4 linked regions of the Homo sapiens genome follow. The protein of the gene in region 1 purifies or fractionates together with the protein of each later gene. This does not show direct contact. Each region holds a gene or a part of one and is shown in the gene's direction. Other genes may lie near its edges. The genes, in order: SERPINB1, PICALM, PKP2 and MB21D2.

Region 1 (4,300 bases):
TTCATTTTTCAAGAAAGATGGCCAGCTACTTTCAGTGGACACTTGTGATGGGGTCATTAAAGATCTATACTAAATATAATACTGGTTAGTGGCAGCTCATGGAAAGGCTCTTGAATTAGCTTTAGAGGAAATTACAGTAAGATGAGGATTGTTTTACTGAGGAAAAAGATTGAAAAGCCCCAAATAGTGTAGCATATATCTTCATCACGTACTATAAAATTCTATTATTACACTGTTTGTTCTCATCACAATTCATATAGATAGTGAATTAAATTTTCAATGGGTACAAGACAGAAAAAGCCTCATGTGACATGTTAGGCCTATTTACTAGTATGATCTTTGCATGAGGTTTCCATTATATGTAGGGACTCTAGCCTGCTCTGTGCTCTCCGTCTCCTCCCTATCCACCTATTCATCATCCTTGCTATCAGGAAGGGGGTCTAATGTTAATCATTTGCATGTACAGACTTTTAATACATTGTATAACAATCAATGTGGCCTTTCTTTTGGTTGTATTTTTGCATTAGTTTTTTTTCTGATTGTAAAGTGAAAATCTCTAGCCTCTTAAAAGGAATTATCAGCACCATTAGAAGAAGTAGAGTGATGGTTCTATTCCAGTCCAATAGCTATAACAATAGTAATGATAATAGCTGACATTTATGTAGCACTATGGGCCAAGCACTTTATATACATCATTTCATTTAATGCTCTCAACAATCTATAAGGTAGATATAAGTAATGTCCACATCACATTTCAGATGAGGAACTAGCTCCAGTGCATAATCTGCCTTTAAAATTTTTACCTAGGAGCTAAAGTTATTAGATATTACTTCAGCTTCAGTGGGATTCAGACTAAATAGAAGAAATATTTTAAATTTCTTCTAGCACTACTCAACCTGGAAGTAATAGCAGCTGTCATGACCTATCACTGTAATCCATTGTGGTAGGGGTTTAGTAAACCCTGGATGAATGGATGGATGGATGAATGGGTAGATGGATGGGTGGATGGGTGGATGAGTAAATGGGTGGATGGATGATAGATAGGTGGATAGATTGTTGGATGGGTGGGTGGGTGGATAGGTGAATGGATGGATGGATGGGTGGATGGGTAGATGGATGATGAATAGGTGGATAGATGGTTGGATGGGTGGGTGGGTAGATAGGTGAATAAATGGATGGATGGATGGGTGGCTGTGTTGCTGGGTAGCTGGGTGGATGGATGGATGGATGGATGGATGGATGGATGGATGGATGAGTGGACAAATGGGTGGATGGATGGGTGGATGGGTGGGTGAGTGGATGATGGACCCAATGTACAAATCCCTTGAACCTTTGATGACTTGGAACACCACCTCTGCCCTATTTCACCAATTGCCATAATGAAATAAAATGCTCCAAATGGAATCTGTTTTGGCACAAAACATGAAGGAAACTAACTAGCAACTGATATTATGGGTCCATTGATTCAATAATACTTTATTGCCTTACTTATGTAAAATTGATATCACTTCCTCTTTCGCCTCATTTTTAATTGCAGATTGAGGAACAGTTGACTTTGGAAAAGTTGCATGAGTGGACTAAACCTGAGAATCTCGATTTCATTGAAGTTAATGTCAGCTTGCCCAGGTTCAAACTGGAAGAGAGTTACACTCTCAACTCCGACCTCGCCCGCCTAGGTGTGCAGGATCTCTTTAACAGTAGCAAGGCTGATCTGTCTGGCATGTCAGGAGCCAGAGATATTTTTATATCAAAAATTGTCCACAAGTCATTTGTGGAAGTGAATGAAGAGGGAACAGAGGCGGCAGCTGCCACAGCAGGCATCGCAACTTTCTGCATGTTGATGCCCGAAGAAAATTTCACTGCCGACCATCCATTCCTTTTCTTTATTCGGCATAATTCCTCAGGTAGCATCCTATTCTTGGGGAGATTTTCTTCCCCTTAGAAGAAAGAGACTGTAGCAATACAAAAATCAAGCTTAGTGCTTTATTACCTGAGTTTTTAATAGAGCCAATATGTCTTATATCTTTACCAATAAAACCACTGTTCAGAAACAAGTCTTTCATTTTCTTTGTAAGTTTGGCTCTGTTGGCTGTTTACACCCATGAATTTTGGCATGGGTATCTATTTTTCTTTTTTACATTGAAAAAAATCCAGTGGTTGCTTTTGAATGCATCAAGTAAAGAAGAAGAAAAGAATACATCCGATGCGTAGATTCTTGACCATGTAGTAATCTATAAAATTGCTATATCCTCCTGATAGCCATGGGAAAACATGATAAGATGGTCATTTATTTTGCAGTTAGAATTTTGGAAGCCACAAAATAGACAGACACCCTGACTGTTGAAGGGAGGTTTAAAAACAGATATTCAATTGAAATGTAAGAGAGCACCCCAATTGAGAGCCCAGGTTACGAAGACAAGCTTGCCTCGCCTGACTTTTCTGTCCCTTGTTCTGCAGGATTAGTATTCTGTTACAGACCTCTAGTTTTTAGACTCTTCAATTAAAGGGCCAATGGTTATAACCTGCATTCCCTTTTTTGTTCTTCTTTATGTATAATATATAGTTCATGTGGCGCTGCATGAAATCAAGAAGTGGGTGTCTTAGGATAAAAGATACCAAGAGTCTACAAAAATAACCATGTAGTAAGATAAACTGCTGAACAAAGGTTTTACTGTTAGCCACCTTCTCATGTGTTTTCTTTTCTCTTTTTCTTTTTCTTTCTTTCTTTCTTTTTTTTTTTTTTGAGACAGAGTCTTGCTCTGTTACCCAGGCTGGAGTGCAGTGGCACGATCTCAGCTCACCGCAACCTCTGCCTCCTGGGTTCAAGTGATTCTCTTGCTTCAGCCTCCTGAGTAGCTGGGATTATAGGCATGCACCACTAGGCCTGGCTAATTTTTGTATTTTTAGTAGAGATGGGGTTTTTCCATGTTGGCCAGGCTGGTCCCGAACTCCTGACCTCAGGTGATCCGCGCACCTCAGCCTCCCAAAGTGCTGGGATTACAGGCATGAGCTACCATGCCTGGCCTTCTCATGTGTTTTCTGATTAAGGCTCTTGACTTCCAAGGCTGTGTGGGGAGATGGGGTGGGGGCTCTTGGACTGATATAAAACTTTGTCAAATGTAGTTCTTTGAATGGAGCTTGAAACGCCGCATATTCTTGCTCCCACAAGGATAGTGGGCATCATGAATTAATAAAACGTCCTAGGATTCTGCAAGCTAGACTGGTCTCAGGCCTCTTCTTATTGCCCCCTATCCCTAGACAAGTTAAGACTGCAAGTGGGGATTATTGGCCTTACAACATTGTTGGTAGAGAGGAATTCCACATGTTAACAACAAAATTTTAGCAACTCTTTTGCCAACAAACTTTCTTTTCTCCCGCTTTCTTAAAATACTTACCATATTCCAGGTTTTCTCACTCTCAGGAAAAACTCTGCCTTCTGTAAGTCTTCTCTTTTGGTTCCTCATCCTAAAATCCACTCTGATTTGGAGTAAATCATGTTAATTGTGTAGAAACTGAATTGTAGGGGCCCAAGTGAGCCCGCTCAAATTATATATGAGGGAACAGGCCTATAGACTATAAGTAAATTGTTGAAGGTCAAAACAATTGGTGAGTTCCAGGGCAGAGACTAGAATCCAATGCGTATTTTATGTGGAGAGCATCTAATTTATGTAATGGTGAAATAGTTACCTCAGGCCTCTGAAGTCAGTTAAAAATCAAACAAATAAAACGAGCATCAGCCCAAAGGCAAGGGAGGGCTAATCTGAACATAAAGAATTATTGGGCCAAGATCCAGAACAAATTGGAAATTCAGAAAAGTGAATCTGGAAATTGGGGCCACTTCTGCCCCAGGGCCATCTGCCAGTCCAGAAGAGGGGAATGAGAAGTGGTAGACAGAGTTTGAGCCTGTCAAGAGTGGGGGCGCCATGATACTGCCTCTGCTTTTGTTTGGCATCCTAAGAGCTATGCCCTATGAGTATGACAGAGTCAGCTCAGAATGCAGCCCTGCTATAAGTCATTGGACAGCCCAGAACTTTCCAATCCCTAGAAGTAGATTATTTTCATCCTGGTTTGCTGCTACCCAGGGGCACATTGCAGAAGCAAACAAAAATCATATTTTGGGGAAAATTACCCGTAAACCTCAAATCATGTTTATCATCAGCTTTTATAATATGATATCCGGCACATAATCAAAGGTAATTGGACAGTTGAGGAGCCGTGACAATGTAAACTAAAACCAGCACAAAAGATAGACAATAGAAACACCAGTACAGGGGCTCCAAATATTAGAATTGTCACACAC
Region 2 (4,300 bases), on another chromosome or scaffold:
TGAGGAATGATATAAATACCAGTGCTGCTATTAAAATATAATGAATATTTTCTTATATTAAGTTAGTATTAATCTATATGAAGTATTAGGAGTTCATAGATAGCACTTAAGACTGACTACTAAAATGTAGTAGGTATTTAGTCATGTAGAATTTGTATTTAAGTTGATAAGGTAACAGTCTTTATCTTGCTGTGTTATATATGGTAATGTGTATCATCTCCTAAGGATTTTGCTTAAATATTTATATGTATTTTATGGAGTTTTCTTTTTAATGGCTAATGTTTGGGGCTGATAATGTGATTCACTACTTAAGATAAACTGCTGCTTTTGACATTTCTTTACATTTCTAACCTTTTTATTAATCCTTAAACACTGTCAAGGTTTTTCAGTGTTTTTTAAATTTAACACAAATTCATTGGAATTTTATTAAAATATATATTATACTACAAATTCTTTTAATTAGTGCTTGCTTTTTTTCTGTGGTAGACATCTGATGCAACCCTGTTTATGCAATGCCCAAAATTTTGCACTGTTGACACTGTTGATAGAATTGATGTTTTAATGGTACTTGTAATCAATAAACTATTTTTTATATAAAGAGATGAGGCCAAAGACTACAATTCCCTTGTCAACCTTGATAGTGTTTTAGTATAGATGTTCTTTCATTAGATACTGGAAATACAAGGGATTTTAGGTAGTTAGTGAATGTACATGTGAACTAAAATGCTCTCTGTGTATTTTCTGTTGTGTAAGTACTTGTTCTAATCCAGTGTTATTGCATTATGTAATTGTTCTCCCTGGGAAAAACAGAATGGCATGCATTTTCCACAATACGTAAGTGACCAAAAACGAGCCTTTTTGCAATAAATTGGCATGCTATTAACCACTGCTGTAGCAGAATCTCATAACCTTTCAGCTATTACTTGTTTTCACATTCAGATTTTCAATGTGCCAGAAATTCTTCCTAGCATCTACTGATTTCATGGGTGTGTTGCAGAATTGATTCTGATGGTGGCATGGGAAATACCGATTTTTTTTCTTGCTTAATATTCCGCCATTTGCTGCCAGATGGCTGGGTGTCTGTGTGTGTATCTGTGCTGCCACTATGCACTTGATGACTTCTGAATGAAGGGAAATGTTGATTGTGGTAATGTTTAAAATAACAACTGCATGAAATCTTACAGGCTTCTGCTCTTCTTGGCAGTTTGTCTACTGCTCTTGCAGATCTTGGTTTTAAGTAGGGAGAGACCAATAAGTCCTACACGCTCACCCGAATACTAAACTTATAACTATTCACTTTAGTGTTATTTTTTTAAAGTTATATTTCATTTAATTTCTCCATGCATATGTTCAAATTGCCATATAATTTCAGTTATTTTATGTTTTAGCAGTGTTATTGGTCTTTCACCTTTATTCAATTTCAGTTTTCATTATGAGAAACACACACAGGAAATGTTGTTAAGACAGCAACTATATCTAAAATGATTCTGTTCTCAAATTGTATGTTTACAGATAATCAAAGTAGTAGGAAGAGGGGAACTTAAACATCATAGTGATAGATGGTTCTTTTAAACATGAAAGCATAAACTGACCTAATTGATTGTTCCTCTTAAATAATTTTTGGAATAAATTAGAAAGCTAACGTACATACTCTATATAAGAACTATGGCTCATAGAAATAGTCATACTCAATAGTAGTTTGAAACCTTTGGAGTTTTTTGAAAAGAGTGAGTAAGATCCTTAGAAACTAACTTTTTGGAAGATCAGGTTATTGATTGATTTGAGATCTTTACATTTTTTTCTTTGAATGCTAAAGCAATCAGGTACCTAAGTAAGAAAACATTCAATAATACTTTTTCTGGGTAGACATTTTTTAATGATAGTGATAGGCTTTAAATTTTAGAACTATTTAGAACTATTTAAGATACTTTTTTAAATCTAAAGATTTTTAAAGCTGTAAAAAGCATGATGAAATCTTAGATCACTGCTGTATCTAAGTTTAAGTGGTATAGTTATCCTTCTAATAAGTCTGCTTTTCTGCTAATTTCAAAACACTTTTTTTCACTGACCATTAATCGACAGTTCTTAATGATCACAAGTGTCACTTACTCACAGCTGTCTTAGCAATTCTTTTTAGTGGAACTACAGCTACTAATTCCTTGAACTCAGTTGACACACATGAGTTATACTTTCTTGTTCATTTTTCCTTTCACTATGTTAGGCACCCCCTGTAATGGCCTATCCTGCTACTACACCAACAGGCATGATAGGATATGGAATTGTAAGTATTTTCCTAGGTACAGCTTTTGGAAAAAATATTGATTCATATATAACATGTTTTTATTACAATTTAACCTAAAAAAGAATTTAGTGCTCCTCATACTCCTAGCCCTAGTGCCTAATGCAGTAGAACCATAGCATTGGTTTCATAAGTATGTCTAGAATAATCATTATACAAGAGATCTTATGCATTAATGTTCATAGTATTACTTGGTTTATTTTTCTCCTCGTAACTTTGCTGGGCCTTTTATATTTCAAACATTAATGTTAATTCTAAGCCTTTGTTGCTGTGACCATATATTAAATACCAGTGAGGTCTTATAACCTGATATTGTAGGGCATGGGAGGGATTAACACTTGAATTGTATAGAGATAAATTTAGTCTGATAAAGGCTAGAGAAATTTTCCTGTGACAATGATTATTACAGTACAAAAACAGTCTTTTAACCTTTCAAAATGCCACAATGTGCATTTTAGATTGCCCTTAGTTTCCCAACTCTCAGTATATAGAGACTCAATTAGAAAAGAAATGGTGCTAGTAGCTTCAACCCACTGGTATGTATTTGAGGAACTGTTCCTGGTAGAAGGCAGTACCGTGTCCCTTGGTATTGCTACTGTGCCTGCTATGTTACTTCTTTATGTATATGATATGGAAGTAACTCCTTTTATACATGTGGAGAAGTTTCACAGCTTTTTTTCATAGTCATTGCATTAAAATGTCTGCTGAGGCTGGGTGTGGTGGCTTACGCCTGTAATCCCAGCACTTTGGGAGGCCAAGGTGGGTGGATCACCTGAGGTTGGGAGTTCAAGACCAGCCTGACCAATATGGTGAAACTCCGTCTCTACTAAAAATACAAAAATTAGCTGGGTATGGTGGCGCACACCTGTAATTCCAGCTACTTGGGAGGCTGAGGCAGGAGAATGGCTTGAACCCAGGAGGCAGAGGTCACAGTGAGTTGAGATCATGCCACTGCACTCCAGTCTGGGCAACGGAGCAAGACTCCATCTCAAAAAAAAAAAAAAAAAAAAAAGTCTGCTGAGAAACTCAGGCCATAAACTTAAAATGAAGCTCTAAATGCAAATAGTAGTCTGCTTGAAACAATAAATAGAACTTCTTGAAAGGAAAGATTTTAGAGCATTGCATTTTAACCAAAACAGTATTCTGTTTGTGCATTATTTTTACACTAGGTATTGTCACTTACTAGGTTAATTTTATACCCTGTAGTGGTAATTTTTAAAGAAACATATTTGGTTGAGATTGTATTTTCAGTTACTCAAGAAAGAGTTAACCTCTGGTTTGTAGTTTAAGCTCTTTCTTGATTCTTATATGAAATAAAATGGAAGAACTAGAGCAGGCTTATTCAGAGAATCAACTGTCTTCACTTGTGATCACTTGCATAATGGCAAAAGTACTTGATTTGTTATACAAATTTACTTTGAAATTTCTTAGCAGCGAAGACAGAGTCTTAAGTTTTCTTGATGTCTAAACCTGATAAATTTGGAAACTCTTAGTCTTAATCATTTTATCTGTTGTAATACAATAAAGTTTACATTTTGCAACTCATTGAATAGAAAAAGTTAGGCTTTGTTACTACATTTTAAAAATGAGCATGTTAAAGACTTTACTTACCAAAAGAAAAAAAAATACTCTCGAAAGTTTGTAGCTGTTAGTCTTACTTATATTCAGAGGAAGTTACCCTTTGAGTCAAGCAAAGGTACTAGGACCTGTCATCCCTGTTGTCATTGTTATTTACTTAGTCACAATAAGGAAGATAGGAGTCAGTATCTTTTGATATTTTTCTCTTTTTTAGCCTCCACAAATGGGAAGTGTTCCTGTAATGACGCAACCAACCTTAATATACAGCCAGCCTGTCATGAGACCTCCAAACCCCTTTGGCCCTGTATCAGGAGCACAGGTATTACACACTACATGTAACTGTGGTAATGTGTTTGATTTGGAAGGAATATGATACTATAAAACCCTTTTGTACAACTTGAGAAACAAGTTACTAGCACTTTC
Region 3 (3,562 bases), on another chromosome or scaffold:
AAAGACTAAGTACAGTTCAAATGCAGTGGTGACTTTGATTTATAGCAAGAACAAGTTTTCCATTTGCTCTATATGGAAACGTAAAGAGATTTTGAAACTGCTTTAACAAGGGCTGCCACAAGAATTTCTTTTATTGACTTGAAAAATTACTCCTACATTCATGATGTCACAAAATCGTATGTATTTTTCAGTCATGGTTTCATGCATTTTTATTCTATAAACATACATTATAAGTATACAAATATAGATTATATTCTATAAATAATTCAAGGATTTATAACATATCTAAAGATACATTCCTTATAAATATCAGGGATTTTTCTGTATAAATTACTTGTTTGTTTATTATTATTATTATTATTTTGAGATGGAGTCTAGCTTTGTCACCAGGCTGGAGTGCAGTGGCGTGATCTCGGCTCACTGCAACCTCCGCCTCCCGGGTTCAAGTGATTCTCCTGCCTCAGCCTCCCGAGTAGCTGGGATTACAGGCACACACTGCCACGCCCAGCTAGATTTTGTATTTTTAGTACAGACGGGGTTTCACCATGTTGGCCAGGATGGTCTGACCTCGTGATCTACCCACCTCAGCCTCCCAAAAGTGCTGGGATTACAGGCGTGAGCCACCCCACCTGGCCTATAAACTATTTATTTATTAGCACTGTGCTAGTGGTTTAAAAAGAAAACAAAAACAGATATGGTCCCCGCCTTGCAGAGCTTGCTGCCTAATTGTCTGGTCACCGAGTGGCCTGACTTCATGGATGGCTGCTGCGGAGTAGCAGTTGAGGAGCGAAGAGGTCTTACAGAACACCCACAGGCCGCATCCAGAAGCCTCACTCATTCTCCCTGATCTCAGAATGTCCTTTTCTTTTCAGCTATGCCTCCAACAAAGCAAGTAAAGCTGCTTCCGTCCTTCTGTATTCTCTGTGGGCACACACGGAACTGCATCATGCCTACAAGAAGGTAAGAACATGAACAAGGAATGTGTCATAGTTAACAGAGCCAGGTAATAATGGCCCACTTGACTTGACCCTGGGAAGAAATCGCTAAAAAACTGCATTTTCTTGTGTGCCAGTTTTGTTACCTTTCACGTTTCTGTTTGCTTATTCCAAAGGCTCAGTTTAAGAAGACAGATTTTGTCAACAGCCGGACTGCCAAAGCCTACCACTCCCTTAAAGACTGAGGAAAATGACAAAGTATTCTCGGCTGCAAAAATCCCCAAAGGAAAACACCTATTTTTCTACTACCCAGCCCAAGAAACCTCAAAAGCATGCCTTGTTTCTATCCTTCTCTATTTCCGTGGTCCCCTGAATCCAGAAAACAAATAGAACATAATTTTATGAGTCTTCCAGAAGACCTTTGCAAGTTTGCCACCAGTAGATACCGGCCACAGGCTCGACAAATAGTGGTCTTTGTTATTAGGGCTTATGGTACATGGCTTCCTGGAATCAAAATGTGAATTCATGTGGAAGGGACATTAATCCAATAAATAAGGAAAGAAGCTGTTGCATTACTGGGATTTTAAAAGTTTGATTTACATTTATATTCCTTTTCTGGTTCCCATGTTTTGTCACTCATGTGCACATTGCTTCGCCATTGGGCCTCCAGTGTATTGTTCTGCAGTGTTGAAACAGAATGGAAATGACAAGAAATATCTGCAGTTATCCAGGAGAAAGTATAATGGCAAAATTATTGGTTTCTTTCTTTACTTTGTGCTTGTTTTTATCCCCTTGGGTTGTTTTTCTCTGATTTTTAAATAAACTTAAGAAATTTAGATTACAGAGTATGCATGACTGTAAGAAAAAGAAATTGAGAGGAAGTGATCATAGCAAATTAAAGAAGTCTTTTCCTCCCAGAACTTAAAGTAAAATAAAAAATAAATAAATAAATAAAATCTTTTCCACAGAGAAAGGCAACTGTGATGATAAAATTTAACGTTCCCCCAAACACTGAGTCAATGAGATTTTTCTCAGGAGATACTTTACCTATAACAACGCCGTTAAATCCAAATCTCTTCTAAACGATGGCATTCTATGTAATGCCTTTCCTGGACTTTTTTGGCCACTGCCCTGGACTAGTGAAAGAATGGACTCTATCTTTATCTGCAAGAGGAACTAAGGCCTTCTCTCAGACTGCCTGGCCAGCCTGGGGCACTGAAAATACGGCTCATGTTAATGAGTTACATTATCAGCCAGCCCAGCCTTGCCCACCATTTAAGAAATATCACAGAGCCACTAGATCTCATATGATCTTCTTCAAGCCATTATTTTAACTCAAGAAAACTCTAGAGAAGAAAAGTGAAGAAGTCATGTTGAAGAAGATGTAAGAATGTGTCAAGACCATCCAGAAATGATATGAGAAATACTGATATTTTAAATGGTTGACATCATCCAGCGAAATGAATCTACATTAAATGTTGTTTTAACTGCGCTATGATTAAAACCATTCATATAGAGTTAGTCTTTACAACTACTATTCTGTTATTTTTTTTTTTAATCTGACAACATTTGTCCTAAGTAAGATAAGCAAAAAAATTCTTCAACTCCTTTTGGCAAGAAAACTGTAACAGAAAATAAATTTTGAATGTGTACTTAAGTCTTTATTATATTTGAAGCAATTTTTTTTCAATTTTAAAAGCTGAATGAAGACAACTTAGGTTGCTAACCTAGTTCAAAATGAAATTATTTAGATACCAATTTTTAAAATACTGGAGAGAATTTATATGTCTTTTTCCAGAGTTCTGATGATAAGCATTTGGAGTGCATTTATTCCTCCAGATAATAAATGTGTGTTCAGAACTTTTTGTGTTTTTTAAGGCATTAATAAAGCCTTCGATAATATTAAATACAAAATGAGACCAAAGTAGTGTTGCTTGCATTGGCGTCTGTGTATATCTGGTTTATTTGTGTATCTTGGAATATATGGTATGATTGACATAAAATTTGAGGATTTAACCTTATAAACTTCAATTACTAAGGGTTTGATACTTTGTAATTAGTTATATTTTCCCCTTAATTAAAATCCTAAATTTTTACCAAGAGACATTTCCTGTGAGAATGGTGGGACTAGATGGTGACCTGACCATAAAAATGAAGACACATGCAGACGTGTTAGCTGCGGTTAGATTTTAGTATATTATTGGGTGATTCTGTGACTGTGAAAAGACAGACTACGTTTGATTTCCATGTGCTGCTTTGTTCACTCTGTTTGCAAACACCTCACTACTTTACAATTTGTGAACACCTCTCAGGGAGGTTCTTCTGTGAATGAACAGTTTTGATCACAGGTCTATACATAAATGTGTTTGTTTTCCTATGTGTCCCAGACAGGGCCCATGCCTTCAGAGAAACTAATGGGCAAAGCTGGGCCTTTTTGTTTATTTGTTCCAAAGGGCTGCTCTCTGTCAAGAATTCTTAATGGTCTTCTGGAATGAAGGGGGTTGCTGCCCTAGATTTCCATCACTGGAAACGTTTGTGTAGATCTGATGGCAATAACCAAAGGGTTATCTGATAAAATAGAGAGGGGATTAACATGTCAAGTGGGAGAATAAGCAGCAGGACTAGAT
Region 4 (4,300 bases), on another chromosome or scaffold:
AGGGCGGGGGGGTGGAGGGTGGCCAGTCCTCTTGGCTTTGTTCTGTATCTGAGCTGCACCTGGGGATTGTTAGCAGCTTACAGATATTATCCCCTCACACAGAATGAAGTGGCCAACCACGAATTGGGTGCAAGCCTCTTTAGTGGAGCTGAGAAAAATACTGCCTCATGTTTCAGGCAGTTGGCAGGGGTGAGGCATGTTACTCTCTTTTTGTGTAAGATTGTTAGCCAAGTCTGAAGCCCCTCCAGCTTCACAGATCCTTTTCATTTTGTCTAGTTTGGAGGAATTTTACACTGAAGAGCAAGGAGGTGGTAGACAGCTGTCATAATCAATGACCTGTCAACACCAAGACACTCCACTGTCTTATCAAAGTAGGGTTCTGCACAGGCTGTGGGGTTGATCTGAGCTTGCTGGTGGTCACTGTGGTCTCTGGGGTCTGTCCTGATGCTCTCTGTTTGTACAGAGATTCTGATTTTTTTTTGGAGGCAGGTGTTAGCTGCAATTGTCTAGATTCACTTCTTATTCCTCTGTACCTTGGTCTTTTAGGAGAATGATTGGTGTTATTATCTAGTTAATATTTGAGAGCCCAGACTGTGCGAAAGGCTGGCAGTGCATAATAAACACCATTTATCAAAATTCAGGGAAATTGCCAGAGTTCATTAATGTTTTAATAATATTTGGTATTAGCATAATGTCTCTGCCAGCTCTTTTGTTATCTTCATTCCCTGGTGAGGTTCGATAGAGACTGGTTTGTGTCCCCATTGAACAGATGCAGAAAAGGGGGTATGCAGATGCTGGAGAAGGCAGGAAAGAAACAAGCCGTCACCTAACCTACAGACCAAGTGGTCGGTACCATGGCATGATTTTTACGGTAGTTAATCATTTACTAATCATCTTCTCAGGGCCAGGAACTTCACATAGACTTTTGAGGAGGTATTGCTTTCCCATTACATAGATGAAGATATTGAAATTTAGTGGGGTGAAGAAAGTGGATATCCAGGGTCACAAAGCTAATAGATGGTAGAGATGCTACTGAAACTCAGGTCAGCCTTACTCTAAAACATGTTCCTCTTCTCCTACTTGAGACTATTAAGAATAGATGCATAAAATCCAGAGGAAAGGCTTTGTTTTAAAAAATCACTTCTTTCAGGATTTTGTTTCGATTTTAGCTATAAGTTTTAGCGTAATATAAGTAGATTTCTGGAACAGTCTGAGTTCAAGTATTCTATAATAAGATCTCCTATTTGAATTTTTGATTGAGAAAATCATAGTAATTATAATAAAATGTTAAAATCTATAGTTTCATTCCCAGTCTGCCTCTTGTTGGCTTTGTGGTCTTAGTATTTTCTCTCTCTTTTTTTGAGACAGGATCTTGCTCCGTTGCCCAGCCTGGAGTGCAATAGTATGATCATGGCTCACCGCAGCCTCAAAGTCCTAGGCGTAAGCTATCTTCCTGTCTCAGCCTCCCTAGTGGCTAGGACTAGAGATGTGTACCACCGTGCCCAGCTAATTTTTTATTTTTTAAAATTTTTGTGTAGATGGAGTCTCACTATGTTGCCCAGGCTGGTCTCAAAATCCTGGCCTCAAGTGATCCTTCTGGCTTGGCCTCCCAAAGTGCTGGTATTACAGGCATGAGCCACCATGCCTGGCCAGTTTTTTCATTTATTAAACATGGATAACAGTAAGCATTGTTTTTCAGAACTGTTATGTCAGAATGTGAAATTACTTTGCTAACTAAAAAAGAATATATACGTGAGTTTATTATTTAAATAAATGTTTGTTTATTTATTTATTTGAGACAGGGTCTCGCTCTGTCACCTAGGCTAGAGTGCAGTGGTACAGTCTCAGCTCACTGCAACCTCTACTTCCTGGGCTCCAAGTGATCCTCCCACCCCAGCCTCCCAAGTAGCTAGGAGTGCAGGCGTGTAACACCACGCCTGGCTAGTTTTTTGTATTTTTGGTAGAGACAGGGTTTCGCCATGTTGCCCAGGCTGGTCTCACACCCCTGAGTTCAAGCAATCCTCCTGCTTTGACCTCCCAGAGTGCTGGGATAAAAATATACTTTCTTAGAAGATCCAGTGAACTTAAATTGGAATTATTTCTGCAGCTTGACATCTGAAAGAACTATGCAGTACAATTAGGGTAGCCCAGGAGGATTTTGGCTCATACCATGTGCTGACCATTGTGCTAGCTACTTTGCCTAAGTCCATTAGCTCATGTAATCTTTTTTCCACAACTTTGTAAGCATAAGTATCATGCCTATTTTGGAAGTGAAATAGGTGTTGTTACCCTTTTTAAAGATGAAATGGTGAGGCTCAAAGAAAGAAGTCAAGAACTTAGGCCAAGATCATTCAGAGTTGGAGACTGAATCCAGTTATTCCTGACTCAGAAGCTCATGTTCCTTTTACTGTAGTAGCAATCAGTTTCCATCACTTTTGGGTGAGACATACTATACTCAGTAGCCTGCCTAGTCTGTAGGAGCAAAGATAATTTCTTTTTTTCTTTTTTCTTTTTTTTTTGAGATACAGTTTTGCCCTTGTTGCCCAGGCTGGAGTGCAGTGGCATGATCTTGGCTCACTGCAACCTCTGCCTCCTGGGTTCAAGTGATTCTCCTGCCTCAGCCTCCCGAGTAGCTGGGATTACAGGCGCCCGCTACCACACCTGGCCAATTTTTGTATTTTTAGTAGAGATGGGGTTTCACCATGTTGTTGGCCAAGGCTGGTCTAGAACTCCTGACCTCAGGTGATCCACCCACCTCGGCCTCCCAAAGTGCTGGGATTACAGGCGTAAGCCACCATGCCCCGCCTGAGATAATTTCTTTTTGTCTTCCTGTCTCTGTCCCTCTTTCTCTCCCTCTGTTTTTTTCACGCATTTGACAAATACTTAATGAATGTAATAGTGTTTGCCAATCAGCGTGCAGGGTTCTGAAGATAAAATGGTGAACAAAAACTTTGAGAAATTCATAAGGGCCTTCAGGGACCCCTCCCCTGTTTCCTTTGCCCACCAACTCTAGCAGGATATTTTGCTGGCTGTTTCTCCTTTCAGGCCAATAAGTGCCATGTGGCCATTTCAAAGATGTAAATGCTTGGTGTGGTGCTCCTGGACCTACCATATTTTTAGGCACTTTCTACATCTCCAGAGTGGGTAATTTTGAAGCCCTACCTTTCCAGTGTTTGATTGCTACTTTTCTGTTAATGAATTCCCCCAGCAGGATTTACCATGGAAATTTATGGTGCGTTGGTGTTTTATGGGCCTCCATGTGCTTGGAAAGTTCCCGAGAGTTGTATTCACTATGTGCTGCATCTGTAGAGTGCACAGGATCATCTCGGAAGTTTGTTCTATCTCTGAGAACATTATGTATCCAGGGCAGGGGATCTCTCCAAACATTCATTTTTGTGCTAGTTTGGATTGGTTTCAATTCCCCCTCCATGGTTCTGGGCAGTGGCTGCCCTTCGTCCTTGAGAGAAGAGGCCTAGAACTGTCGACAGTCCTGGGTCTTCCTGTCATTCCTTGTCATGCCACTCATTGGATAATACATTGCTCACAGTTAGGCTGAGCCCCTTTTTAATTCACAGAAATATTAGATTCTAACAATTCAAAATCTCTGGTCCCATTCAGACCTATTGAATCCGAATTCCCTAGAGATCCCCCAACAAGCTGCTCAGCATGTCAACATCCTGTCCTGTGTTAGGCTTGATGTTCTGCATTCTCTGTTCTAGGCACAGTGAGCATGATCCCAGTTGACTTTTGAGACTAGAACCAAGCTGCTGAGCCTAATGAGCAGATAATGTCTGTCTGCTCCTGGAAAGTAATAGTGGAGTTCTTCCACCTGGGACAGAGACAAAAAGGCATAGTGAGTGAGACAAGGGTGTTTACTATGTCACAGGTTTTAATAGGACTTTACTGTATCATTTAATCATCACCATTACACTTTGAGGTTAAAAAAAAAAAACTGTGGTGAACCCTAGAATTAGAAAAATATAGGAATTCATCCAAGTTTACCAGCAAGTGAGTGGCATAGGTGGGACTTAACCTGGGTCAGGATGAATACAAAACCCTGGCTTTTAACAAGGACAATATTCTGCACTCAGGACCAAGAGACCCAGATTTTACCTCTGAATCTCCAGTTATTAACATTTGCTGTGTGACGTTGGGCAAGTCACTCAGACTTTAAGCCTCAGTTTCTAAATATATAAGTTGGGCTTAATCATTATATGTACTTCATGTGTTCAGGTGCATTCAATTCTGAATCTGAAAGTTTTTATATAGTAAGAGAAAAGGGAATTTCTGAGTTCTTGTA

Evidence for each region.
Region 2: the proteins of SERPINB1 (region 1) and PICALM fractionate together in Homo sapiens (co-fractionation; one large-scale study listed by BioGRID). This does not show direct contact.
Region 3: the proteins of SERPINB1 (region 1) and PKP2 purify together in Homo sapiens (co-immunoprecipitation; one large-scale study listed by IntAct). This does not show direct contact.
Region 4: the proteins of SERPINB1 (region 1) and MB21D2 fractionate together in Homo sapiens (co-fractionation; one large-scale study listed by BioGRID). This does not show direct contact.

What each region holds. Positions count from the first base shown.
Region 1 is NC_000006.12:2,831,250-2,835,549, reverse strand, and holds the end of SERPINB1 (leukocyte elastase inhibitor), read left to right. Parts: intron 1-1,537; coding exon 1,538-1,942; 3' UTR 1,943-3,218; downstream 3,219-4,300.
Region 2 is NC_000011.10:85,974,604-85,978,903, reverse strand, and holds part of PICALM (phosphatidylinositol-binding clathrin assembly protein), read left to right. Parts: intron 1-810; coding exon of another isoform or gene 811-834; intron 835-2,221; coding exon 2,222-2,281; intron 2,282-4,091; coding exon 4,092-4,196; intron 4,197-4,300. UniProt on the Homo sapiens protein: Cytoplasmic adapter protein that plays a critical role in clathrin-mediated endocytosis which is important in processes such as internalization of cell receptors, synaptic transmission or removal of apoptotic cells.
Region 3 is NC_000012.12:32,790,042-32,793,603, reverse strand, and holds the end of PKP2 (plakophilin-2), read left to right. Parts: intron 1-872; coding exon 873-960; intron 961-1,111; coding exon 1,112-1,180; coding exon of another isoform or gene 1,181-1,325; 3' UTR 1,326-2,849; downstream 2,850-3,562. UniProt on the Homo sapiens protein: A component of desmosome cell-cell junctions which are required for positive regulation of cellular adhesion.
Region 4 is NC_000003.12:192,910,893-192,915,192, reverse strand, and holds part of MB21D2 (nucleotidyltransferase MB21D2), read left to right. Parts: intron 1-4,300. UniProt on the Homo sapiens protein: Probable nucleotidyltransferase that catalyzes the formation of cyclic dinucleotide second messenger in response to some unknown stimulus.